Linked DNA regions of Homo sapiens: all the other regions are linked to region 3. Evidence: fine-mapped expression QTL. A gene starts in region 3. Each other region holds a variant in brackets. All regions are shown on one strand. Distances are from middle to middle.

Region 1 (10,896 bases), 280 kb before region 3:
GGGAGGTTGAGGTGGGAGGATCACTTGAGGCCAGGATTCAAGATCAGCCTGGGCAACATAGCAAGACCCCATCTCTCCAAAACAATTTTTTAAATTAGCCAGGCATGGTGGCACACATCTGTAGTCTCAACTACTTGGGAGGCTGAGGTGGGAGGCTCGCTTGAGCCCAAGAGGAGTTCAAGGCTGCTGTGAGCTGTGATCACACCACTGCACTCCAGCCTGGGCAACAGAGCAAGACCTGGGCTTTAAAAAAAAAAAAATGAGGCAAAGAGCTCATAGCTGCCTGCAGAGGAGGCTGCCAGTGGGGCCGGGTAGTCGGTACAATGAACGGAGCAGAGAGCTCTGCCACTGACTGCAGGAGAGCAGGGGCCATGGCCTGCCCCTCCGCTTTCCTTCCATCCCTTTGTGGGGATGTAGGATGCCAGGGCTCTGTGGGACACAGCACAGAGTTGGGGTGGCCCAGGCTGACGCTGTTGACCAAATGCTACTGAGCATTGCCCCTTCCCAGTCCCCCACATACCTCCCCGGGGGCCCTTTTTTCCCATTTCCTTGGCTTTTCCGGGCCTGGGGCTTGGAGGGGAGGGAGGGCCCACAGCAGACTCTTCATGAGGTCTCAGTTTAACACCTCCTGAGCCCTTTTTGGGCACAAGCCTGGAGACCTGGTGGGCAGCTGGGACCATCACACAGGTGGCCAGTCTCACCACTGCCTCACTGCTTCACTCTTCCGGCACCTGTCCTCCAGCTGGCATAGTCCAAACACCAGCCCACCACGCCTACTCTGAAGCCTCATTCCTCCTCTGCCAATTTTTTGTAGAGCTAGGGTCTCACTATATTGCCCAGGCTGATCCTGAACTCCTGGCCTCAAGCAATCCTCCCACCTTGGCCTCCCCCAGAAATGCCCCAACCTGGCACTCCCTGTGCCCTAACCCACAGAGTCACACCTGCCATGTGTGGCCAAGCTGTGGATCACACCTGCCATGTGTGGCCAAGCTGTGGACCACACATGCCTAGAGTAGGTGAGCCCTGCCTGTGGGTCCCCTGCCAAGGGGTATGAGAGCCTGGGGCACACCCCAGCACACGAGCTCAGAGCGTGCACCTGGCTGGGAGCCTCCACGCATGCAGGTGCAGGTGAGAGTGGGAAACACCAGGCACAGGAGAACATCCAGCAAGGCACACCCCACAAGGGCGAGGGTTCATGTCTGGTTTTGATCACACATAATGGGGGCTCAGTAAATCTTCAATGAATGTCAAATGAATGTATGGAAAATAACCACAGCACCCTGCCTGGCACACAGCAAATTCGAGGAAGGCATTGGCTGAAGGAAGGTGTCTGCTGAAACACCTGACCTTTTAGTTTCAAACACCTTATCTCACCCTCTGTGGCAGCGTTTCAAGGCCTTTTTTTTTTTTTCTTTTTGAGGTCAGAGAGAAGAACCCTTTTTCCTGCAGTGGGGTACCTGCTGACCTGCTAACCACAGTGTAGACAGCATACTTCACCGGGAGCTCCAGCTGGAAGGTGGTCTTGCTGGTCCTGGGAGTGTTGTTCTCACTGGAGAAAGAGGAGAGACTCAGTTGCCAGAGGCCCCAGAGGAGGAGAATGGGGTGTGAGGCTGGAGATGAGGGGCACTGCCCCTGGCCTGGCCCGGCTCACCTGCTCACATTGGCTGTCAGAAGCAGCCGGTCTCCCAGGACAGCCTTGGGGGAGACGTCAAAGGTAGCCAAGAAGGTGATCTGAGGAAAAGGAACTGAGAGGTCACAGAGCAGTAAAGACAGGGTGGGGCAGGGGAGCAGTGAGGGGACAGAAGCCAGGCTGACCTGGGCGCCGCCACGGAAGATGAGGTGGTTGATTCTGCAGCTGGTGCTCCAGGTGCCCTGGCTCCCAACTGGGGCGCTGTCACATGTCAGGTGCAGGGAACGCAGCTGCCCTTGTTTCTAGGCATGAGAAAAAGTAGAGGAGTATTAGTTGAAATTGAAAGCAATGGCAAAAACCCAATTACTTTTGCACCAACCTAATATAACAGCATTCCAAAGACACGCCACGAAGTAGTGATAAAGCTTCCTGGAGCCCACCTTAAGCTTATGTTTTTGTTTGTTTGTTTGTTTTTTGAGACCAGGTCTCACTCTGTCACCCAGGCTAGAAAGCAGTGATGCAATCACAGCTCACTGCAGCCTCAAACTCTGGCCTCAAGCCATCCTCTTGCCTCAGCCTCCTGAGTAGCTAGGACTACAGGCACACACCACCACCATGCCTGGCTAATTTTAAAAAAATTTTTTTATAAATGGGACCTCGCTATATTGCCCAGGCTGGTCTTGAACTCCTGGCCTCAAGCAATCCTCCCATCTTGTCCCCCCAAAACACTAGGATTACAGGTATGAGCCACCATGTCCAGCCAAGGTTACGTTTTTAAAAGCTCCCCCATAGCTATCTGGTCAAACTTTCTTCCAAAGTAGAAATCTCAAATGTATTAAAATGTTCACCTTTTTATTGTTATTTTAAAGGCCTCTTATAATGGAAAATTTAAAACACATTAAAAAATAGAGAGACTGGAAAATCAACCCCATATAACCATCACTCATTTTAAGTAACCAACATTTTTCTACTCTTGTTTCTGCTATGTTCTCTTTCTGAACACTTTAAAGCACATTCCAAACACCATATTGTTTCATCTAGAAATACTTCAGTGTATACCACCAATAGATAAGGGTATTTTAAATGTAACCACAAGAACCAACAAATCACAGCCAACAAAATTAACAATTACTCCTTAATATACCAATATACTGGTCATGTTCTATTTTCTTAGATTGTCTCCAAAAATGTTATTTTACAGCTCATTTGTTAAAATCAATATTCAGCAAAGGTCCACCCATTACATTTGGTTGATATGTCTAGGAGCACTTTCATTGACAGTGATCACCCCTCACATGCAAGAGATGGCCTTTCCTGCTGTGTTCTTTTATACGTTAATCAAAATGCGCTTCCGCTGGGAATATTAGACTAAGAGAGACAGCAGAAATAACAACCAACCATCATGTATGGACCTAGTTCGAATTTTCGTTCAAATAGACCAGAAGTAAAAAGATATTTTTGAGACAGTTACACAATTTTGACTATGATCTTAATACCAAGGAATCACTTATTTCATTGGGTGTGATAATGGTGTTGAGGTCATATAAGAGGTCCTCATTGTTCAGAACTATAGAGTGTGTCTTTGTCTGTTCCCTGCTGCTATAACAGATTACCGCAAACTAGGTAATGTATCAATAGAAGCTTTGTGGTTCTGGAGGCTGGGAAGTCCAAGAACATGGCACCAGCATCTGGTGAGGGCCTTTGTGCTGCATGTGCAAGGCAGTGCATGTGAGAGTGAGAGGGAAAGGGGGCCAAACTCATCCTTTAATTAGAAACCCACTCCTGGGCTAGGCTCCGTGGCTTACGCCTGTAATCCTAGTACTTTGGGAGGCCGAATCGGGTGGATCATTTGAGGTCAGGAGTTCAAGACCAGACTGCCCAACATGGTGAAACCCCATCTCTACTAAAAATGCAAAACTTAGCTGGGCGTGGCAGTGGGCACCTGTAATCCCAGCTACTCAGGAGGCTGAGGCACAAGAATTGCTTGAATTCGGGAGGCAGAGGCTGCAGTGAGCCAAGATCGTGCCACTGCACCCTAGCCTGGGCAACAGAGCAAGACCCTCTCAAGGAAAGAAAGAAAGAAGGAAAAGAAAGAAAGAAAAAGAAAGAAGAAAGGAAGGAAGGAAACCCACTCCTGAAATAACTAATCTACTCTTGAGATAATAGTATTCATCCATTCATGAGGGCAAAGCCCTCATAACCTAATCACCTTTAAAAGGTTTCACCTTTCAACACTGTTGCATTGGGGATTAAGTGTCCAACACACGAACATTGGGTGATGCATTCAAACCATAGCAGAGTGAATAAGGAGGAGTACAATGACCCCCATGTCTGAGATTTGTTTTAAAATACTTTAGCAGGTCAGGCACAGTGGCTCATGTCTGTAACTCCAACACTTTGGGAAGCTAAGATAGGAGGACTGCTTGAACCCAGGGGTTAGAGACCAGTTTGGGCAGCATGGTAAGACCCCAACTCTACAAAAAAAATTAAAAAATTAGCCAGGTGTGGTGGTGTGTGCATGTGGTTCTAGCTACTCAGGAGGCTGAGATGGGAGGATCGCTTGAGCCCAGGAGGTCAAGGCTACAGTAAGCTGAAATTGTGCCACTGCACTCCAGCCTGTGTGACAGAGCAAAACCCTGTCTCAAAAATAAAGAAATAAAGAAAATACCTTAGCAAAGGGGAAAAATTGATGAAACAAATGTGGCAAAATGCTGCTAATTGTTGAATCTAGGTGACAAGTTTTGGGGAGGTTTGTTGAACTACTTTCTACTTTTGTAAATGTTTTAAATTTTTCATAATAACTTTTTTTTTTTAGACAGAGTCTTGCTCTGTTGTGCAGGCTGGAGTGCAGTGGCACAATCTCAGCTCACTGCAACCTCCGTCTTCCGGGTTCAAGCAGTTCTCTCACCTCGGCCTCCCCAGTAGCTGGGATCACAGGCACCTGCCACCACACCCAGCTAATTTTTGTATTTTTCGTAGAGATGGGGTTTCACCATGTTGGCCAGGCTGGTCTCAAACTCCTGACCTCCGGTGATCCGCCTGCCTCAACCTCCCGAAGTCCTGGGATTACAGGCGTGAGCCACCACTCCCAGCCATAATAACATCTTTGTTTAAAAAATCTGGTTCTCTTTGACTCCCCGTGGTCCTAGTTCTGCATTTTAAAGCAGGGATTGGCAACCAACAGCCACTACCTATTTTTATAAAGTTTTACTGCATCGCAGGTATATTCACTCATAAACTCATTCATGTCAATGGCTGCTTTCATTCCACAACACCAGAGGTTAGCAGCTGTGACACAGACCACGCAGACCACGAAGCTGAAATATTTACTATCTAGCCCTTTATAGAAAAAGGTCGCCAAGCCTTAATGTAGAGTGACCAATAAATTCAACCCCTTGCTTCTACAGAACAGTGTTTTAAAATATTTGAAGGCTGAGGTATGTTTTCATTTAAAAGAGGAATACTGATATAATATGGAATAGAAAGAAATTTGGGCAGGTTCCCCTCTGTCTCCACATTAGTGGCCTCTCAGGAAATCATTCCTGATAGTCAGTGTCCTTAAACTGCGATGCCCAAAGTTGAACACCCACACGAGCAGAGGCGTGCCCCAGATGGCACTACCACCTCCAAGCCCAGCCCGGGTTCTGAACCGCACGGGAATCTACGCTAACGCCCAGCCCTGCCTCCTCCTCCTTCCCCAGAGGGTGCACCTGGCCCTCTGCCACGTAGCGGTAGGACAGTCCTGCGGGGTGGGAGAAGGTGATGGTGGTTCCGTAGGAGTCTTCCCCGTCATTCCACACCATCACTTCTGCGTTCAGCTCCAGGTTACTCCCCACCAGCAGGGACTTCAAGCTGGGTATCAGGTGA[A/G]GGAAAGGAGAAGATGATTCTGTGACTGAGGCTAGAAATGGTCTGGGATAAAATGGGGTGGGTGGGGATTTGGGAGATAGACAGGGGACGGACCCCTGGGTTCTTCTTCTTCTTCTTCTTCTTCTTCTTCTTTTTTTTTAAGAGACAGAGTCCTGCTCTTTCACCCAGGCTGGAGTGCAGTGGTGTGATTATGGCTCACTGCAGCCTCCAACTCCAGAGCTCAAGCAATCCTTAAGCTTCAGCCTCCCAAGTAGCTGGGACTATAGGCATGCTCTACCACACTCAAGTGATGTTGTTGTTGTTGTTGTTGTTGTTGTTTTGTTTTTGTGGAAATGGGATCTCGCTCTGTTGCCCAGGCTGATCCCTAACTCCTGGCCTCAAAAGATCCTCCCACCTCGGCCTCCCAAAGTGCTGGGATTACAGGCGTGAGCCACTGTGCCCAGCCAAGACACCTGGGTTTTGACTATAGGATGAGACAATGTTAGGGAGAGCCAGAGGCAGGAGTCCCAGATTCCAGGAAGGAGGCTGGGGCAGTAGGGCAGGTCTAAGGTGGGGGCGCTCACCCTGGGAAGCTGAAGGAGATGCCGAGATTGTCCTGGCAGATATGGTCGGCTCCACAGTTCTTCTCAAAGGGTAGCTGCGTGGGAAGGCAACGGGGGGTTTTCTCCGAGACCCAGGCCCCACGCTGTGCACCCTCTCTGGGAGACCCAGTGCCAGGACTCACGGAGGCCGTGAAGTATCTCTGAGCATCGGCGGCCAGCATAGGCCGCAGGTTTCTGAAGGCAAGGAGGGGCTTGCCCACCAGCGTGAAGTTCAGACGCAAGGTAATGGGGGTCACAGAGTCCTCCACGCAGCTCTGGGGGACGGGCGTCGCGGGGAGCGGAGGGTAAGGGGAGGGTAAGAGCTGCGCTCGGCCTCATCCGCAGTTCTTATCCTGCCTCTGCCCAGCTCCCGCGCGGCTTCAGCTTCCTCCAGAGCCTGCTCAGCGTCACCGCCTTCAGGAGGCCTCCCTGACACCCTCTCTGTTCTCTCCCCTTGTTTGTCTTTGTTTTTTTCCTCCCCCCCCCCAGACCTCCCGATCAGCAATGACTGTTTTGGCCACCTATGCCCCTGGCCCCCAGGGCAAGGCCTGTCTCCCAGGAGCAGCTCGATAAACCCCTGTCCAGTGAATGCCTGAAAAAAAGCCCAGCCGGAAGCCCCAGAGCTCTCTCAGGTTGCCCAATTCTCTTTCCTGAAATCCAATCGTGTGGCCCCTGGAAATTGCAGCCGATCTCATCACTTGTTTGCTCGCTCACTCACTCACTGGCTAACGTGCAGTAAGCACGTCCTGCATGGCTGGTCCTGTGCTGGGCTGAGCCACAGGGAGGCCGGAACACAGCCTGTTCTCTCCCTGCCCTGCCTTCTGCCAGCCCCAGCGCGGCCGCCACCCACGTTCATGCCCAGACGCACCGGGAGCAGCAGGTTGAAGTTTTCACAGTGTGCCTTCAGCCCGAGGACTCGGACTCGGCTCAGACTCCGGTTCTTTGTTTCCTGGAAGGTGGCACGGGGACTCAGGCGGCCAGGGTCGAGGGCCAGGTCCAAGGTCACAGAGCTTTGGAGGTCACCTGTAGGCGGTCGCAGGGACGGCGTTGAGACAGGAACTCCTTGGGTGGACAATGAGCAGGGTGGGAGACAGGGGCCTGGGATGGGGGACTCCAGAGGTCAGGGTGTCCTGGGTTGGAGGGGAGGGGACTCACGGCTCCCAAGCAGGTTCTTAGAACGTTTGTCAATGTAAAGGCAGATGTTGGACTGTACCAGGGTCTGCTCAGAGACCACCTGCTCCCGACACTCAAACGCAGACCTGGGGATCTCGGCAGGTATGAACTGCATGCTCACCCCCACCCAGAGCACAGGTCTGGTCCTGCGGGCAGAGCACCGAGCTGAGGACAGGCCGTCGGCTCCTGGGAGCACCACGTGGGGTGGGCACCCCCATCTGAACCTAGGACCACCTGGGGAGCCTCTGAGAAAGGCTGCTCTCACCTGAGCAGGAGCACCTGGCCCCGGGCCCCCACAGCCAGGTCCACCAGTCCATCCTGGGTGAGGTCTTGACCCCCGCTCAGTGCCTGCCCAAAATACTGCAGCCTGGAGGAGAGCTGGGAGCCCGCGATCCGCTGGCCAGAGGAGAGAAGGGTGAATCAAGATGGAAAGTAGGGGAAGAAGTTGGAAATAAGTAACAAGGGGAATATGGAGGTAGGACCATCGGAAAGGGAGAGAAGGGGTGAGTTGTGAACAGATGTCACCAAGAAGAACCTGAAAAGAGGAGGTAGGAGTTGGGAGATGATTGCTAAGAAACAGATGTAAGAGTGGAGATAGGAAGGGTGTCCTGGTGACCCGAGTGTCATTCATTCGATCAGTCTCTAGTTCCAATTCTGACTCCTCCACGTATGAGCCACGAGGCCGTGGGCAAGGACTCAATCTGTCTGTGCCTCCGTTTCCTCATCTTTCATATAATGATACTATTAGCTCAGAGTTTAGCCATGCTCAGGAGAGGAATTCCTACGGTTCTTAGAACAGCACCCAGGATACAGCCAGCAGTCAATAATATATCACAATGAGTATTAAGGCTGAAAGGGACCTCAGAGTTTGTCCAACCTCACCTCCCTCGTTGCAAAGATGCAGGAGAGAGGTTGGGGACAGTGTCAACCCCAGGTAGCCTTTAAGAGGCTGACTGCAGACCTAACACCAGACCGTCCAACCCCAGGCCCAAGTCCCCTTTTTGTTTCTTGCTGTCACTCTGTCTCTTCAAAGGACAAGAAAAAGCCGCGGTGGGGTAGGGAGTGGTCGCACCCACACCCAGATCCACCCTCCCAGGCACTGCCTCCCCTGTAGAACCTATCACCTTCATTCCCAGTGCTCATGTTATGCCCAATCCCTGGAAGAATGTGCCCTTTAAATCTCTGTGCACCCTGGAACTAGCAGCCATTAAAAGTGATAATAATGGCTGGACGCGGTGGCTCACACCTGTAATCCCAACACTTTGGGAGGCCGAGGCGGGTGGGTCATCTGAGGTCAGGAGTTCCAGACCAGCCTGGCCAACATGGTGAAACCCCGTTTCTACTAAATAAACAAAAATTAGCTGGGCATGATGGCACATACCTGCAATCCAAGCTGCTCAGGAGGCTGAGGCAGGAGAATCACTTGAACCCGGGAGGCAGAGGTTGCAGTGAGCGGAGATTGCACCACTGTGCTCCAGTCTGGGTGACAGAGCGAGACTCTGTCTCAAAAAAAAAGGTAATAATAATGGGCAGGGCACACTGGCTTTGTGCCTGTGGTCCCAGCTACTCAGGAGTCTTTGGCAGGAGGATCTCTTCAGTCCAGGAGTTCGAGGCTGCAGTCAGCTATGATTGCGCCACTGAACTCCAGCCTGAGTGACATGATGAGATTCTGTCTCTAAAAAATAAAAATTAAAAAAAAGAAAAGAAAAAAAGGAATAATAACAAAATAAAAAGAGAAATTTACCAATTACTGAGGGAGTCTAGAAAGGCTAGGTGTACCCCCTCTAAATCTAAAAGTTCAAAAATAAAAATAAAATATTTGATTGGTAAAAAATGCTAACAATCGTTTAAGCCTTTAGCAAGGCATAATCTTTTTGCTGGTGGAGGGTCTTGCCTGATGGTGACACGGCTGACTGATCACAGTGGCAACTGCTGGAGGTTGGGGTGGCTATGGCAATTTCCTAAAATAAGACCGTGAGGAAGTTTGCTGCCTGGATGGACTCTTCCTTTCATGAAATTTCTCTGGAGCATGCGATGCTGGTTGATAACATTTGGCCACAGTAGAGCTTCTTTGAAAGTTGGAGTCGTCCGGGAGGTGAGGGGCGCCTCTGCCCGGCCGCCCCTACTGGGAAGTGAGGAGACCCTCTGCCCGGCCAGCTGCCCCGTCCGGGAGGGAGGTGGGGGGGGGGGTCAGCCCCCCGCCCGGCCAGCTGCCTCGTCCAGGAGGGAGGTGGGGGGGTCAGCCCCCCGCCCGGCCAGCCGCCCCGTCCGGGAGGTGAGGGGCACCTCTGCCCGGCCGCCCCTACTGGGAAGTGAGGAGCCCCTCTGCCCGGCCACCACCCCGTCTGGGAGGTGTACCCAACAGCTCATTGAGAACGGGCCATGATGACAATGGCGGTTTTGTGGAATCGAAAGGGGGGAAAGGTGGGGAAAAGATTGAGAAATCGGATGGTTGCCGTGTCTGTGTAGAAAGAAGTAGACATGGGAGATTTTTCATTTTGTTCTGTACTAAGAAAAATTCTTCTGCCTTGGGATCCTCTTGATCTGTGACCTTACCCCCAACCCTGTGCTCTCTGAAACATGTGCTGTGTCCACTCAGGGTTAAATGGATTAAGGGCGGTGCAAGATGTGCTTTGTTAAACAGATGCTTGAAGGCAGCATGCTCGTTAAGAGTCATCACCACTCCCTAATCTCAAGTACCCAGGGACACAAACACTGCGGAAGGCCGCAGGGTCCTCTGCCTGGGAAAACCAGAGACCTTTGTTCACTTGTTTATCTGCTGACCTTCCCTCCACTATTGTCCTATGACCCTGCGAAATCCCCCTCTGCGAGAAACACCCAAGAATGATCAATAAAAAAAATAAAAAATAAAAAAATAAATAAAAAATAAAAAATAAAAAAAGAAAGTTGGAGTCAATTCTCTCAAATTCTATGCTGATTTATCAACTACGTTTATATAATATTCTTTTTTTTTTTTTTTTTGAGACACACTTTCACTCTGTCGCCCAGGCTAGAGTGCAGTGGTGTGATCTCGGCTCACTGCAACCTTTGCCTGAGGGGTTCAAGCGATTCTCCTGCCTCAGCCTCCTGAGTAGCTGGGATTACAGACATCTGCCACCACACCCAGCTAATTTTTTTAGTAGAGATGTTTAGTAGAGAGGTTTCCCTATGTAGGCCAGGCTGGTCTTGAACTCCTGACCTCAGGTGGTCTGCCCACCTCAGCCTCCCTAAGTGCTGGGATTATGTAATATTCTTAATCTTGTGTTGTCATTTCAACAATATTTATATCATCTTCACCAGGAATAGATTCCATCTGAAAAAAAAAAAAAACACTTTCTTTCCTCATCTGTAAGAAGCAGGTCCTCATCTGTGCAAGTTTCATCATGAGACTGCAGCAATTCAGGCTCCACTTCTAATTCTGGTTCTCTATTTCCACACATCCGCAATCACTTCCTCCCCTGAAGCCTTGAGCCACTCAAAGTCATCCATGAGAATCAGAATCAGCTTCTCCCGAACTCGTGTTAATGTTGATATTTTGACCCCCTCTGATGAATCATGAATGTTCTTAATGGCATCTAAAATGGTGAATTTTTTTCCAGAAGGTTTTCAATTGACTTTGCCCAGATCCATCAGAAGAATCACTAT
Region 2 (5,000 bases), 160 kb after region 3:
GATTTATCTTTGAATCATCTCCTCTTTGCACTTAAAACCAGTATTGTTGCCGGGCGCGGTGGCTCATGCGTGTAATCCCAGCACTTTGGGAGGCCGAGGTGGGTGGATCACTAGGTCAGGAGATCAAGACCATCCAGGCTAACACAGTGAAACCCCGTCTCTACTAAAAAAAAAATACAAAAAATTAGCTGGGCGTGGTGGAGGGCGCCTGTAGTCCCAGATACTCGGGAGGCTGAGGCAGGAGAATGGCGTGAATCTGGGAGGTGGAGCTTGCAGTGAGCCGAGATCGTGCCACTGCACTCCAGCCTGGGCGACAGAGCGAGACTCCGTCTCAAAAAAAAAACAAAAAAAAAAACCCCAGTATTGTTTCACATAAATATGTTAATCTTAAAAATAAACACAAAAGTCCAAGTGTGGTGTAATCCCAGCACTTTGGGAGGCCAAGGTGGACAGATCACGAGGTCAGGAGATTGAGACCATCCTGGCTAACACGGTGAAACCCCATCTCTACTAAAAATACAAAAAATTAGCCGGGCGTGGTGGCGGGCACCTGTAGTCCCAGCTACTTGGGAGGCTAAGGCAGGAGAATGGCATGAACCTGGGAGGCGGAGCTTGCAGTAAGCCGAGATTGCGCCACTGCACTCCAGCCTGGGTGACAGAGCGAGACTCTGTCTCAAAAATAAATAAATAAATAAATAAAACACAAAAAAGACCAGAGTTATTAAATCCTAGCCAGGTGTTGCTGTGGCTTTAGGCTACTACCTGAAGACTACTTTTGTTAAACAGGGAGATAAGTATCAGAGAAGTGTTAGAAAAAGCACCCAATAGTGGCCAGGCGCAGTGGCTCACGCCTGTAATCCCAGCACTTTGGGAGGCCGAGGCAGGCGGATCACGAGATCAGGAGATGGAGACCATCCTGGCTAATACGGTGAAACCTCGTATCTGCTAAAAATACAAAAGATTAGCCGGGCGTGGTGGCAGGCGCCTGTAGTCCCAGCTACTCAGGAGGCTGAGGCAGGAGAATGGCGTGAACCCAGGAGGCGGAGCTGGCAGTGAGCCGAGACTGCACCACTGCACTCCAGCCTGGGCGACAGAGCAAGACTCCATCTCAAAAAAGAAAAAAAGCACCCGATGGAGAGACTTCCTTCCAATGGAAAGACTTCCTTTCCAAAACTCACAGAGGGATTAAGCCATATTTTTGTGTCACTGAAAAATGCCAGACCTACTCCAGAGGCCCAGTGTGTCATTTCATTATTTTTTTCAGACAAAGTCTCACTGTCGCCCAGGCTAGAGCTCAGTGATGCAATCATAGCTCACTGCAGCCTCAAACTCCTGGGCTCAAGTGATCCCCTTGCCTCAGCCTCCCATGTGGCTGGGACCACAGGTATGCTTAGCTAATTTTTTCTTTTTTAATAGAGATGGGGGTCTCACTATGTTGCCCAAGCTTGTCTTGAACCCCTGGGCTCAAGCAATTCTCCTGCCTCAGCCTCCCAAAGTGCTGGGATTACAGGCGTGAGCCACTGGGCCCAGCCCTGGTGTGACGTTTTAGAGAAGGCTGAGGGCACAGACACCAAGGCTTCAGTCCGAACACCTTCACCCCTCTGCCACTCGCTCTCCTGTTCCCTCCTACCCTCATCCTGCTTTTCTGGCATTCTAGCCTCTCCCTCTCCTGATTCCTTCCTCTCAACTAATAAACATCTGCAAATCTCTCCAATTCAAAACATGAAAAGGAAAAAAACCAACTCATGCCCGACCCAGCTTCTACCCCTAGGTCCTGCCCCTTTGCTCTTTCTGTGAGCAAGAAAATCGGTGACATCTGCTCTATCCAAAACCTCTCTCTGCCCACTGTGACCCTGCCACGACTGCCTCCCAGCTTAACTGTCACCACTTCCTTGAAGCCACTTCCCTTCCACGGTCCACAGCTGGAAGGAAGCCCCTTTCCCTGGGGGCACCCACAGGACCCCAGTTGTGTTTCTGTATCATACTCCACAACAGCCAGGCCACACACCTGCCCACCTATAGACACAGTGCTGTCTGATGCCAACACGTTGTGGCACATGCTGTGCCTCTGCCAGAAATGCCAACCCAGAGCCTTCGTGGCTCGGCTCCAGTGCCTCCTCTTCCAGGAAGTCTCCCACACCTTCCTTGGCTACAGCTCATCAGTCCCCCTGCTCTTGTACAACCAGGACACTGGGGTTAAACCTCAGAGGGACAACCAACAGTCACTGAGGGCCCTACTGATCCCAAGTATCTGGCTTCCACTGGGCACGGAGGAGGCAAAGATGACAGGTTCCTGCCATACAGTCAGGGAGACATGGACAGTCCGCAGTAACTGAGGTGACAAGGGGCATGGTAAGAGTCACCTCAAGGACTGGGTGGGGGAGCCTCCTGGGGGGACAATGCCTGACCTGAGACTCCGAGGAAAGCAGTAGTTATTTCAGCAAGGGGAGGGGGAGGAGGGTGTGTGTTCCAGATGGGCAAGAACCTGTGTCCAGGCCCACAAGAGACAAGACGGAGAGCTCTGGAAACCCCAGGCCACAGGAACTCATCATCATAACCAGAGTCACGCTGATCACAGTGACTTCAGCACTACTAACCAGCCATCATCCAGGGTTCACTGTGTGCCAGGCACTGTCCCATGCATTAAGCACTGAACCTCACGCCAGCCCTAGGAGGTCAACATTACCATCATCATCTCCTTTCTACAGTAAAGAAAATGAGGCAAGCGTGTGCGGTGGCTCACGCCTGTTAATCCCAGCACTTTGGGAGGCCAAGGAGGGCGGATCACGAGGTCAGGA[G/AGGAG]TTCAAGACCAGCCTGGCCAACATAGTGAAACCTCGTCTCTACTAAAAATACAAAAATTAGCTGGGTGTGGTGGCACGCGCCTGCAGTCCCAGCTACTCAGGAGGCTGAGGCAGGAGAATCACTTGAACCCAGGAGGCAGAGGTTGCAGTGAGCCGAGACCACAGCATTCCACTCCAGCCTGGGTAACAGAGTCAGACTCTGCCTCAAAAAAAAAAAAAAAGGTCGGGCGCGCTGGCTCACGCCTGTAATCCCAGCACTTTGGGAGGCTGAGGCAGGTGGATCATGAGGTCAGGAGGTCGAGACCATCCTGGCTAACATGGTGAAACCCCGTCTCTACTAAAAAACAAAAAAAAAAAAAAAAAAAGAAAAAAAATTAGCCAGGCGTGGTGGCAGGCACCTGTAGTCCCAGTTACTCAGGAGGCTGAGGCAGGAGAATGGCGTGAATCCGGGAGGCGGAGCTTGCAGTGAGCCGAGATTGTCGCCAGCCTGGGTGACAGAGTGAGACTCCGTCTCAAAAAAAAAAAAAAAAATGAGGCCCAGAAAGGTTGAGAAATGTATTCAAGGTCCCACAACTACCAAGTGGTAGGTAGTAGAGGCGGGGTTCCACCTAGCCCGTCTGGGTGGAAAGCCTGAATTCTGAGGAGAGAAGAGGCAAGAGTGGAGCTGCAAAGGAGGGATGGGTGTCATGTCAAGGAGGGCTGGAATGCCAGGCCATAGACTATCATGGTCACAGAGCCCAGAGCTGAGGATGTGAGCTATGGGGATCTAAATCCCAGCTCTGCCACCTCCAGGCTTTGGGGGGCCTCAGGCAAGTCACTCGCCCTGTGTGGGCTTCCATTTCCCAAACTGTACAGTGGGGTGAAGAACAGCGCTTCCTTCAGAGGTTGCTGTGACAAGGAAGGGACACAGCTCAGGGAAGTGGTTGGTGCAGTCGGTAGGCCCAGTTCATGTCCATATGTCCAACAGGACTGCGATGGTGGGCGTCTGTTGTGAGGGCGACAGGGAGCCACAGGTGGGTTCTTTCTAAGCTGGAGAATGACACTGAGACAAGAGGCAGGGAAAGCTCTAAGAGCCAAGGTGTGCCGTCGTCCCAGAGACATGTGGCTTGATGCCAAAGTCCCCTAACCCATTCACTTCCTCCTGGACTCCAGCCACCCCGCAATGAGTCCTCTCCTACTAGGCCGACCTGCAAACCCTCAATTCCAATCCTAACCCTCCCTCTTGCAGAAGCCCCCGGGAACAGGGAGCTGGACCAGCCCTTACTGCCCTCTGAAGGCTCACGGCCCCTAGGGCTCCAAGCACTGCCAGTTCCGACCTCTTGTAGCTCTCTGGGCCCCGATGCTACCACTGCCCTCCAATCTGTCCACCTCCAGACCCTACCCGACCATGATCACCTTGTATTCCAGTCCCTTCCTTGCTGCCTTCTCTCTGTCCATGTCCTCAAAAGCCCCAACCCTCTTCCTTGCATCTCAATAACCCCTGCACGCCTTCCCTGCTGCCCTCTCTCCACTCTTCACTCTTCACTCTTAAGGGATCACTTCCCTTTCAGTTCCAAGAAAAGATGGAAGCCACCAGACAGGAAAGCCTGCAGCCTCCTGCTGTCCCCTACACACGCCTCTCCAGCGCCACCCTCTGTACATCCTTCCACACTGCATCCTGCTCTCTTGTCCTTCACTCATTCAGCGAAGATGATCTCACTGCCCACTGTCCGCCAGGTGCCATTAGACACCAGGAACACAACAGGAACAAACGAATCAAGTCCCTGCCTGGAAGCTGATGTTCTCGACTCCATTCAATCTGGCTTTGGACCCCCAACCCCCAGAGCACAGCTGAGGACACTAAGGCCTCCTGGTAGCAAAATCCAACCACCACTTCCTGGTCCTTGATCTCCCACGGCCTCTCACCAGCATCCTCCTTGGCTTACCACATTCCCTCCTGCCTCGTTCTCTACTCGGGGGCACACCTCTGGCCATGAGCTCCTCCAATTATCTGGCTAGGCTCTTGCTCTAACTCACAAGTACTGATGTATGATCTTTTGCCCTCTTCATCAAAGCTGCTTGGCTTGCTACCTACAGGCTGAGAACTCCCAAACGTGTATCTTTCTCCTGAGCATCAGACCCACACGTCCTGAGCACACCACACACGTCAGTCATCTGAGCTCTTTACCTTCCTGGAAACTGCTCCTCCTGAGCCTGGGGAAT
Region 3 (10,896 bases):
ACGCATAGTGGCTGGTGCCTGTAATCACAGCTACTCAGGAGGCTAAGGCAGGAGAATCACTTGAATCCGGGAGGCAGAGGTTGCAGTGAGCCGAGATTGCACCACTGCATTTCAGCCTGGGCAGCAGAGTGGGACTGTCTCACATTAATTAATTAATTGATTAAATGCTAGAAGAAAATATGGTCAAAATCTTTTATAACTCTTGGAGTGAGGAAGGCAATCTCGGCTCACTACAACTTCCACCTCCCGGGTTCAAATGATTCTCCTGCCTCAGCCTCCTGAGTAGCTGGGATTACAGGCACCCACCACCATGCCCGGCTAATTTTTGTATTTTTAGTAGAGACGAGGTTTCGCCATGTTGGCCAAGCTTGTCTTAAACTCCTGACCTCAGGTGATCCACCCACCTCAGCCTCCCAAATTGCTGGGATTACAGGCATGAGCCACCATGCCCCGCCTAATTTTAAAAATGTTTATAAAGACAGAGTCTTACCACGTTGTCCAGACCTGTCTCAAACTCCTGGGCTCAAGTCATTGTCTTGTCTCAGCCTCCCAAAGTTCTGGGACTACAGGTGTGCACCACCACACCTGGCTAATTTTGTTTATTTTTTATAGAGTGAGGGTCTCCCTGTGTTGTCCAGGGTGTCTCAAACTCCTGGGCTCAAGTGGTCCTCCTGCCTCAGCCTCCCAAAGTGCTGGGATTATAGGCATAAGCCACTGCACCTGGCCCCAGTGTGTGTCTTCTGAGGCTAAGTCATAAAGAGATTGCGGCTTCTATTTTGCTTCCTCTTAGATCACTCATTCTGGGGGAAACCAACAATAAATAACAGGAACACACCAGGAGATCAGAGAAAGCTGAGATACAGGCCTAATGCCCAGTCCTCTGTATTCATTTCTAATTGCTGCTGTAACAAGTTACTGCACATTTAATGATGTAAAACAACACAAATTTATCTTACAGTTCTGTAGCTTAGAAGTCTGACAGAGTCTCACTGGGCTGAAATCAAGATGTTGATAGTTCCTTCCCGGTGACTCTAGAGTGAGAATCCAGTTCTTTACCCTTTCTTGCCTTTAGAGGCCACCCGTATTTATTAGCTCACAATCCCCTTCCTCCATCTTCAAACCAGAAACATTGCAGCTCTCTGTGTCTTTTTTCTTTACTCACATCTCCCTCTGACTTTCTTCTGCCATCCTCCTTCATTTTTTAAGGACCCCTGTGGGCCAGGCATGGTGGCTTATGCCTGTAATCCCAGCACTTTGAGAGGCGGAGGCAGGCGGGTCACCTGAGGTCAGGAGTTCCAGACCAGCCTGGCCAACATGGCAAAACCCCATCTCCACTGAAAATACAAAAATTGGGCCAGGCACGGCGGCTCACACCCGTAATCCCCATACTTTGAGAGGCTGAGGCAGGTGGATCACTTGAGGTCAGGAGTTCAAGACCAGCCTGGCCAACATGGTGAAATCCCGTCTCTACTAAAAAAAAAAAAAATTACAATAATTAGTCAGGCGTGGTGGCCAGCACCTATAATCCCAGCTACTTGGGAGGTTGAGGCACAAGAATTGCTTGAACCCGAGAGGGGGAGGTTGCAGTGAGCTGAGATTGCACCACCGTACTCCAGCCTGGATGACAGAGCAAGACTCTGTCTCAAAATAAAAATTAAGATAAATAATAAAAAATAAATAAAAATCAGCAAATTAGGCCAGGTGTGGTGGTGGCTCATGCCTGTACTCCCAGCACTTTGAGGTGGGAAGGTTGCTTGAAACCAGAAGTTTAGACCAGCCTGGGAAACAAAGTGAGACCCCATCTCTACAAAAATAAAAATAAATTAGCCAGGTGTGGTGGGACGTACTTGTACTCCTAGCTACTAGGGAGGCTGAGGTGCAAGAATCGCTTGAACCTGGGAGACGGAGGTTGCAGTGAGTTATGACAGTGCCACTACACTCCAGCCTGGGTGTCAAGGGTCTTTGAAAAAATAAACAAAATAGGCTGGGCGTGGTGGCTTACACTTGTAATCCCAGCACTTTGGGAGGCTGAGGCAGGCAGATCACAAAGTCAGGAGTTCGAGACCAGCCTGGCCAACACAGTGAAACCCCGTCTCTACTAAAAATACAAAAATTAGCCAGGCATGGTTGCACGCGCCTGTAGTCCCAACTGCTCGGGAGGCTGAGGCAGGAGAATGGCTTGAACCTGGGGGGGGGCGGAAGTTATAATGAGCCAAGATTGTGCCACTGCACTCCAGCCTAGGCAACAGAGCGAGACTCCGTCTCAAAAATAAAAATAAAAATAAATCAATAGAGCCTGGTATGATGGCTCACGCCTATAATCCCAGCACTTTGGGAGGCCCAGGTGGGTGGATCATCTGAGGTCAGGAGTTTGAGACCAGCCTGACCAACATGGAGAAACCCCATCTCTACTAAAAATACAAAAAATTAGCCAGGCGTGGTGGCACATGCCTATAATCCCAGCTACTCAGGAGCCTGAGGCAGGAGAATCGCTTTAACCGGGGAGGTGGAGGTTGCGGTGAGTCGAGATAGCACCATTGCATTCTAGCCTGGGCAACAAGAGCAAAACTCCATCTCAAAAATAAATAAATAAATAGATAGATAGGCTGGGCACGGTGGCTCACGCCTGTAATCCCAGCACTTTGGGAGGCCGAGGTGGGCGGATCACCTGAGGTCAGGAGTTCAAGACCAGCCTGGCCAATATAGCGAAACCCTGTCTCTACTAAAAATTTAAAAAATTAGCCAGGCATGATGGCGGGTGCCTGTAATCCCAGCTACTCGGGAGGCTGAGGCAGGAGAATCTCTCGAACCTGGCAGGCGGAGGTTGCAGTGAGCCGAGATCACACCATTGCACTCCAGTTGGGCAACAAGAGCGAAACTCCACCTCAAAAACAAAATAAAATAAAATAAAATCAGGAGATTGGTCAGCTTAATTCCATCTGCAACCTTAATTCCCTTTTGGCCATTTAACCTATCATATTCACAAGTTCCAGGGATTCATGCAGGGACATCTTTGGTGACCATTATTCTGTCTACCACACTCTCTAGAAGAGAGTAGATGTGAGAAACAGCATCTGGAGAGGGAGGAGCCAGCAGGAGAGGGAAATATCACAGACGCCAGAGGAAGAGAGTTCCCAGAAGGGTAGGTGCAACAGTAAGGGATCCCTCTGGGAAGTCAAGCAAGAGAAGACCTGAAAAACAACCATTGGCCGGGTGCGGTGGCTCACGCCTATAATCCTAGCATTTTGGGAGGCCGAGGTGGGTGGATCACTTGAGGTCAGGAGTTTAAGACAAGCCTGGCCAACATGGTGAAACCCTGTCTCTACTAAAAATACAAAAATTAGCCAGACATGGTGGCAGGCACCTGTAGTCCAAACTACTTGGGAGGCTGAGGCACGAGAACCACTTGAACCCTGGAGGCGGAAGTTGCAGTGAGCCGAGATGGCACCGCTGCACTCCAGCCTGGGCGACAGAGTGAGACTCCGTCTCAAAATAAGTAAATAAATAAATAAATAACCATTGGGTCTAGCGTCTTGGTGACACCAGCCACTAGGTGTCAGGGCAATGCTGGAGGCAGCAGCTAGTTTATGGCGTGGGCAGCAAGGAAGAAGTGAGGAAGTAGAGACTGGGAGTGTAGAATCTTTCCAAAAACTTGAATGTGGAGGGGTAGATGGGATAATGCCGGGAGAGGAGGCTGGTGAAGGACCTCTTAGTGAAGGGAGATTTGTTGCTGTTTCTGAGATGGGAAAGAGAAACAAGTTGCAGTGTAGATGGGGAGGATGGAGAGGTTGAAGGTGTAGGAGAGATGGGTCACCATCAGATGGGACGTCTGTGAAGGAGAGACCTCATCTGGCCCACAGCTTGGAAAGGAGAGACTGACTGTTGAGTTGATGCAAGCTCAGGTGTTGCCAGGCGGGCGCCATGATAGTAGAGAGGTTAGGATACTGTCAAGGGTGTGTGTGGCCAAAGGAGTGGTTCTGTGAATGTATGGGAGAAAGGGAGACCGACCACCAGGAAGCACTGGTGAGGCAGGACCCGGGAGGATGGGAGGCTGCAGCCCGAATGGTGCCTGAAATAGTTTCAGGGGAAATGCTTGGTTCCCGAATCGGATCGCCGTATTCGCTGGATCCCCTGATCCGCTGGTCTCTAGGTCCCGGATGCTGCAATTCTTACAACAGGACTTGGCATAGGGTAAGCGCAAATGCTGTTAACCACACTAACACACTTTTTTTTTTCTTTTTTTTTTTTGAGACAGAGTCTCACTCTGTCGGCCTGGCTGGAGTGCAGTGGCACGATCTCGGCTCACTGCAACCTCCGGCTCCCCGGCTCAAGCAATTCTCCTGCCTCAGCCTCCCGAGTAGCTGGGATTACAGGCATGTGCCACCACGCCCGGCTAATTTTTGTATTTTTAGTTGAGATGGGGTTTCACCATGTTGGCGAGGCTGGTCTTGAACTCCTGACCTCAGGTAATCCGCCAGCCTCGGCCTCCCAAAGTGCTGGGATTACAAGCGTGAGCCACCGTGCCCGGCCAACAGTTTTTAAATCTGTGGAGACTTCATTTCCCTTGATGCCTTGCAGCCGCGCCGACTACAACTCCCATCATGCCTGGCAGCCGCTGGGGCCGCGATTCCGCACGTCCCTTACCCGCTTCACTAGTCCCGGCATTCTTCGCTGTTTTCCTAACTCGCCCGCTTGACTAGCGCCCTGGAACAGCCATTTGGGTCGTGGAGTGCGAGCACGGCCGGCCAATCGCCGAGTCAGAGGGCCAGGAGGGGCGCGGCCATTCGCCGCCCGGCCCCTGCTCCGTGGCTGGTTTTCTCCGCGGGCGCCTCGGGCGGAACCTGGAGATAATGGGCAGCACCTGGGGGAGCCCTGGCTGGGTGCGGCTCGCTCTTTGCCTGACGGGCTTAGTGCTCTCGCTCTACGCGCTGCACGTGAAGGCGGCGCGCGCCCGGGACCGGGATTACCGCGCGCTCTGCGACGTGGGCACCGCCATCAGCTGTTCGCGCGTCTTCTCCTCCAGGTGTGCACGGGAGTGGGAGGCGTGGGGCCTCGGAGCAGGGCGGCCAGGATGCCAGATGATTATTCTGGAGTCTGGGATCGGTGTGCCCGGGGAACGGACACGGGGCTGGACTGCTCGCGGGGTCGTTGCACAGGGGCTGAGCTACCCAGCGATACTGGTGTTCGAAATAAGAGTGCGAGGCAAGGGACCAGACAGTGCTGGGGACTGGGATTATTCCGGGGACTCGCACGTGAATTGGATGCCAAGGAATAACGGTGACCAGGAAAGGCGGGGAGGCAGGATGGCGGTAGAGATTGACGATGGTCTCAAGGACGGCGCGCAGGTGAAGGGGGGTGTTGGCGATGGCTGCGCCCAGGAACAAGGTGGCCCGGTCTGGCTGTGCGTGATGGCCAGGCGTTAGCATAATGACGGAATACAGAGGAGGCGAGTGAGTGGCCAGGGAGCTGGAGATTCTGGGGTCCAGGGCAAAGATAATCTGCCCCCGACTCCCAGTCTCTGATGCAAAACCGAGTGAACCGTTATACCAGCCTTGCCATTTTAAGAATTACTTAAGGGCCGGGCGCGGTGGCCCACTCCTGTAATCCCAGCACTTTGGGAGGCCGAGGCGGATGGATCACTTGAAGTCAGGAGTTGACCAGCCTGGCCAACATGGTGAAAGCCTGTCTCTACCAAAAATAGAAAAATTAATCGGGCGCTATGGCGGGTGCCTTAATCCCAGCTACTCGGGGGGGCTAAGGCAGGAGAATCGCTTGAACCCGGGAGGCGGAGGTTTCAGTGAGCCGAGATCGCGCCACTGCACTCCAGCCTGGGCCAGAGTGAGACTCCGTCTCAAAAAAAAAAAAAAAAAAAAAAAAAAAGAGACTTACTTAAGGTCTAAGATGAAAAGCAGGGCCTACGGAGTAGCCACGTCCGGGCCTGGTCTGGGGAGAGGGGAGGATAGGGTCAGTGACATGGAATCCTGACGTGGCCAAAGGTGCCCGGTGCCAGGAGATCATCGACCCTTGGACTAGGATGGGAGGTCGGGGAACAGAGGATAGCCCAGGTGGCTTCTTGGAAATCACCTTTCTCGGGCAGGGTCCAAGGCACTGGGTTGACAGTCCTAACCTGGTTCCACCCCACCCCACCCCTCTGCCAGGTGGGGCAGGGGTTTCGGGCTGGTGGAGCATGTGCTGGGACAGGACAGCATCCTCAATCAATCCAACAGCATATTCGGTTGCATCTTCTACACACTACAGCTATTGTTAGGTGAGTGGCTCCGCCCCCTCCCTGCCCGCCCCGCCCCGCCCCTCATCCCCCTTGGTCAGCTCAGCCCCACTCCATGCAATCTTGGTGATCCACACAGCTGACAGCCAGCTAGCTGCTCATCACGGAGCGTCCTGCGGGTGGGGATGTGGGGAGGTAACTAACAGGAGTCTTTTAATTGGTTTAAGTACTGTTAGAGGCTGAAGGGCCCTTAAAGACATCCTAGGTCCCCAGGTTTTTTGTTTGTTGTTGTTTTGAGACAGGGTCTGGCTCTGTTGCCCAAAGTGAGGTCTAGGATGCCCTTAGTGTGCACTGGCGTGATCTCAGTTCATGGCAACCTCTGCCTCCCTGCCCAAGGGATCCTCCCACCTTAGCCTCCCAAGCAGCTGGAATCACAGGCGTGCACCACTATGCCCAGCTAATTTTTGTTTTTGTTTTTTTTTGGTAGAGATGGTGTCTCGCCATGTTGCCCAGGCTGGTCTCAAGCAATCTGTCTGCCTCAGCCTCCCAAAGTGCTGGGGGGATTACAGGCGTGAGCTACCATGCCCCACCAACACCCCAGTTTTGTGGAAAAGATGCCGAAATTCCTTTTTAAGGAGAAGCTGAGCATGAGCTATCTTTTGTCTCATTTAGTGCTCAGCAGGAAAATTTGTATCTAGTCCCATAAGAACAGAGAGAGGAACCAAGGGAGTGGAAGACGATGGCGCCCCAGGCCTTGCTGATGCCATATGCCGGAGATGAGACTATCCATTACCACCCTTCCCAGCAGGCTCCCACGCTCCCTTTGAGTCACCCTTCCCAGCTCCAGAGAAGGCATCACTGAGGGAGGCCCAGCACCATGGTCCTGGCTGACACATGGTTCAGACTTGGCCGATTTATTTAAGAAATTTTATTGCTCAGAACTTTCCCTCCCTGGGCAATGGCAAGAGCTTCAGAGACCAGTCCCTTGGAGGGGACCTGTTGAAGCCTTCTTTTTTTTTTTTTTTAAGAAATAATCTTGCTCTGTTGCCCAGGCTGGAGTGCAGTGGCACAATCATAGCTCACTGTAACCTGGCTCAAGCGATCCTCCTGAGTAGCTAGGACTATAGGCATGTCACTGCACCCAGCTAATTTTTTTTTTTTTTTTTTTTTTTTTTTTGCGACATAGTCTCGCTCTGTCACCAGGCTGGAGTGCAGTGGCACGATCTTGGCTCACTGCAACCTCTGCCTCCCGGGTTCAAGCAATTTTCCTGCCTCAGCCTCCTGAGTAGCTGGGACTACAGGCGCGTGTCACCACGCCCAGCTAATTTTTGTATTTTTAGTGGAGACAGGGTTTCACCATGTTGGCTAGGATGGTCTCAATCTCTTGACCTGGTGATCCATCCGCCTTGGCCTCCCAAAGTGCTAGGATTACAGGCGTGAGTCAACCTCACCGGGCATTTTTTTTTTGAGACGAAGTCTTGCTCTTGCTGCCCAAGCTGGAATGTGGTGGCATGATCTCGGCTCACTGCAACCTCCACCTCCTAGGTTCAAGCGATTCTCCACCTTAGCCTCCCCAGCAGCTGGGATTACAGGTGCCCATCAACACACCCGGCTAATTTTTGTATTTTTATTAGAGATGGGGTTTTGCCATGTTGGCCAGGCTGCTCTCGAACTCCTAACCTCAGGTGATCCACCCCCATTGGCCTCCCAAAATACTGGGATTACAGGCATGAGCCACCGTGCCCAGCTGAATTTCTAAATTTTTGATAGAGATCGGGTCTTTCTATGTTGCCCAAGCTGGTCTTGAACTCCTAGCCTAAAGCAGTCTTCCCACCTCGGCCTCCCAGAGTGTTTGGAATACGTGCGTAAGCCACCACATCTGCCCTGGAGCCTCTTGTTTTAGAGACCCTTCCCAGCAGCTCCTGGCATCTAGGTAGTGCAGTGACATCATGGAGTGTTCGGGAGGTGGCCAGTGCCTGAAGCCCACACCGGACCCTCTTCTGCCTTGCAGGTTGCCTGCGGACACGCTGGGCCTCTGTCCTGATGCTGCTGAGCTCCCTGGTGTCTCTCGCTGGTTCTGTCTACCTGGCCTGGATCCTGTTCTTCGTGCTCTATGATTTCTGCATTGTTTGTATCACCACCTATGCTATCAACGTGAGCCTGATGTGGCTCAGTTTCCGGAAGGTCCAAGAACCCCAGGGCAAGGCTAAGAGGCACTGAGCCCTCAACCCAAGCCAGGCTGACCTCATCTGCTTTGCTTTGGCATGTGAGCCTTGCCTAAGGGGGCATATCTGGGTCCCTAGAAGGCCCTAGATGTGGGGCTTCTAGATTACCCCCTCCTCCTGCCATACCCGCACATGACAATGGACCAAATGTGCCACACGCTCGCTCTTTTTTACACCCAGTGCCTCTGACTCTGTCCCCATGGGCTGGTCTCCAAAGCTCTTTCCATTGCCCAGGGAGGGAAGGTTCTGAGCAATAAAGTTTCTTAGATCAATCAGCCAAGTCTGAACCATGTGTCTGCCATGGACTGTGGTGCTGGGCCTCCCTCGGTGTTGCCTTCTCTGGAGCTGGGAAGGGTGAGTCAGAGGGAGAGTGGAGGGCCTGCTGGGAAGGGTGGTTATGGGTAGTCTCATCTCCAGTGTGTGGAGTCAGCAAGGCCTGGGGCACCATTGGCCCCCACCCCCAGGAAACAGGCTGGCAGCTCGCTCCTGCTGCCCACAGGAGCCAGGCCTCCTCTCCTGGGAAGGCTGAGCACACACCTGGAAGGGCAGGCTGCCCTTCTGGTTCTGTAAATGCTTGCTGGGAAGTTCTTCCTTGAGTTTAACTTTAACCCCTCCAGTTGCCTTATCGACCATTCCAAGCCAGTATTGGTAGCCTTGGAGGGTCAGGGCCAGGTTGTGAAGGTTTTTGTTTTGCCTATTATGCCCTGACCACTTACCTACATGCCAAGCACTGTTTAAGAACTTGTGTTGGCAGGGTGCAGTGGCTCACACCTGTAATCCCTGTACTTTGGGAGGCCAAGGCAGGAGGATCACTTGAGGCCAGGAGTTCCAGACCAGCCTGGGCAAAATAGTGAGACCCCTGTCTCTACAAAAAAAAAAAAAAAAAAAAATTAGCCAGGCATGGTGGTGTATGTACCTATAGTCCCAACTAATCGGGAAGCTGGCGGGAAGACTGCTTGAGCCCAGAAGGTTGAGGCTGCAGTGAGCCATGATCACTGCACTCCAGCCTGAGCAACAGAGCAAGACCGTCTCCAAAAAAAAACAAAAAACAAAAAAAAACTTGTGTTAACGTGTTAAACTCGTTTAATCTTTACAGTGATTTATGAGGTGGGTACTATTATTATCCCTATCTTGATGATAGGGACAGAGTGGCTAATTAGTATGCCTGAGATCACACAGCTACTGCAGGAGGCTCTCAGGATTTGAATCCACCTGGTCCATCTGGCTCCAGCATCTATATGCTTTTTTTTTTGTTGGTTTGTTTTTGAGACGGACTTTCGCTCTTGTTGTCCAGGCTGGAGTGCAATGGCACAATTTCGGCTCACCACAACCTCCACCTCCCAGGTTCAAGTGATTCTCCTGCCTCAGCCTCCCGAGTAGCTGGGATTACAGGCATGCGCCACCAGGCCTGGCTAATTTTGTATTTTTAGTAGAGACAGTGTTTCTCTATGTTGGTCAGGCTGGTCTCGCACTCCCGACCTCAGGTGATCTGCCTGCTTTGGCCTCCCAAAGTGCTGGGATTACAGGCGTGAGCCACCATGCCCGGCCAGCATCTATAATATATGCTAAACCTTACCCACAGCTGCCTCTGTCTTGGGGTCAGGGTTCTTGAATGGTCTGGGCCAGCCTGAGTTAGGAGTGGGAAGAGGAAGAGGAGGCACGCGCCAAAGTGTTCTTCCCGCCTGACCGAGTCCTCTGCGCCTATGAGGAAGGTGGGCACCGCTGTCACCCTGTTTCCCAGGAAGCCAGCAGGCCCAGGGAGATACTGGGATTTGCCAAAGGCTCACAGCGAGCAAGCAGCAGTGGGTGCTGGCTCCTCACCACTCAGCCTGGCACACACTGTCTCTGAGCAGACCTGGGAGAAGGCATGTGAAACCCACCTAGCCCTGGCTGGAAGAGAAGTGGGGGAGTGGAAATGAAAAGTGGGGACTGGGAGGAGCTGCCCACGTGCCCTCCATGGTTCCAGGATGGCACTTTCATGCTGGGAGTGAGCTTGCCCTGTGCCAGGCTGTCATTGAGACGTTTTCCATTCAACAACTGTTTCTCAGACAAGGCACAGGCAGGTTAGCTCTCCCAGGCCACTCAAGTAGTAAGGAAACAGATTTAAACCCAGACAATTTGGCTCCACGGCTAAGGCCCAGAGAGGGGTGGTGACAAGCCTAGGGTCACACAGCCACAGCCCCAGAGCTAGGAACTGCTGGCTAGGGCAAGCAGACAGCTGAATCCTAGCCAACTGGAGGTGGAGCAGAGGTGGAGCCAGGGAGACCCAGGTGGCCTCTCTCAGAGTGGAGCACAGGTGGCAGAGTGGCCCGGGGCAGCATGAAGTGGTGCTGGGGCCCAGTGCTGCTCATCGCGGGTGCCACAGTCCTCATGGAGGGTAAGCCGCCATGTGCTGGGGTATGGGTGTGGCCTGGTGGGGGCTCAGGGGCCATCTCTGCCCCAGCA

The links. PIP is the estimated chance that this variant, and not a neighbour inherited with it, causes the effect. A credible set is the group of variants that fine-mapping cannot tell apart.
Region 1: its variant is the best candidate, but not a certain one, in a credible set for the expression of VKORC1 in cerebral cortex (GTEx, PIP 0.63).
Region 2: its variant is the best candidate, but not a certain one, in a credible set for the expression of VKORC1 in whole blood (TOPMed, PIP 0.51).

The regions. Positions count from the first base shown.
Region 1 is chr16:31,367,835-31,378,730 of GRCh38, reverse strand. It overlaps ITGAX (integrin subunit alpha X), which reads right to left. Exons shown (of 30, transcript NM_000887.5): 15 at 7,517-7,647; 16 at 7,234-7,397; 17 at 6,947-7,101; 18 at 6,222-6,353; 19 at 6,061-6,134; 20 at 5,341-5,482; 21 at 1,816-1,932; 22 at 1,652-1,731; 23 at 1,466-1,549. Among named protein-coding and RNA genes, the nearest start is that of ITGAX, 18 kb to the right of the region's middle. RefSeq lists an enhancer at 9,566-10,172. The variant A/G (reference allele first, on the strand shown) is at 5,498.
Region 2 is chr16:30,934,765-30,939,764 of GRCh38, reverse strand. All of the region lies in intron 7 of FBXL19 (F-box and leucine rich repeat protein 19), which reads right to left. Among named protein-coding and RNA genes, the nearest start is that of ORAI3, 12 kb to the left of the region's middle. RefSeq lists an enhancer at 4,343-4,637. The variant G/AGGAG (reference allele first, on the strand shown) is at 2,799.
Region 3 is chr16:31,088,684-31,099,579 of GRCh38, reverse strand. It overlaps VKORC1 (vitamin K epoxide reductase complex subunit 1), which reads left to right and starts at 4,783. Exons shown (of 3, transcript NM_024006.6): 1 at 4,783-5,023; 2 at 6,159-6,268; 3 at 8,238-8,726. The coding sequence starts at 4,851. The coding sequence ends at 8,446. LOC124903680 (zinc finger protein ENSP00000375192-like) reads left to right here and starts at 3,575. Exons shown (of 1, transcript XM_047435012.1): 1 at 3,575-4,696. The coding sequence starts at 4,202. The coding sequence ends at 4,696. It overlaps PRSS53 (serine protease 53), which reads left to right and starts at 10,637. Exons shown (of 11, transcript NM_001039503.3): 1 at 10,637-10,828. The coding sequence starts at 10,771. RefSeq lists enhancers at 3,615-3,794, 4,310-4,359, 4,410-4,459, 4,490-4,669, 5,850-6,558 and 1 more.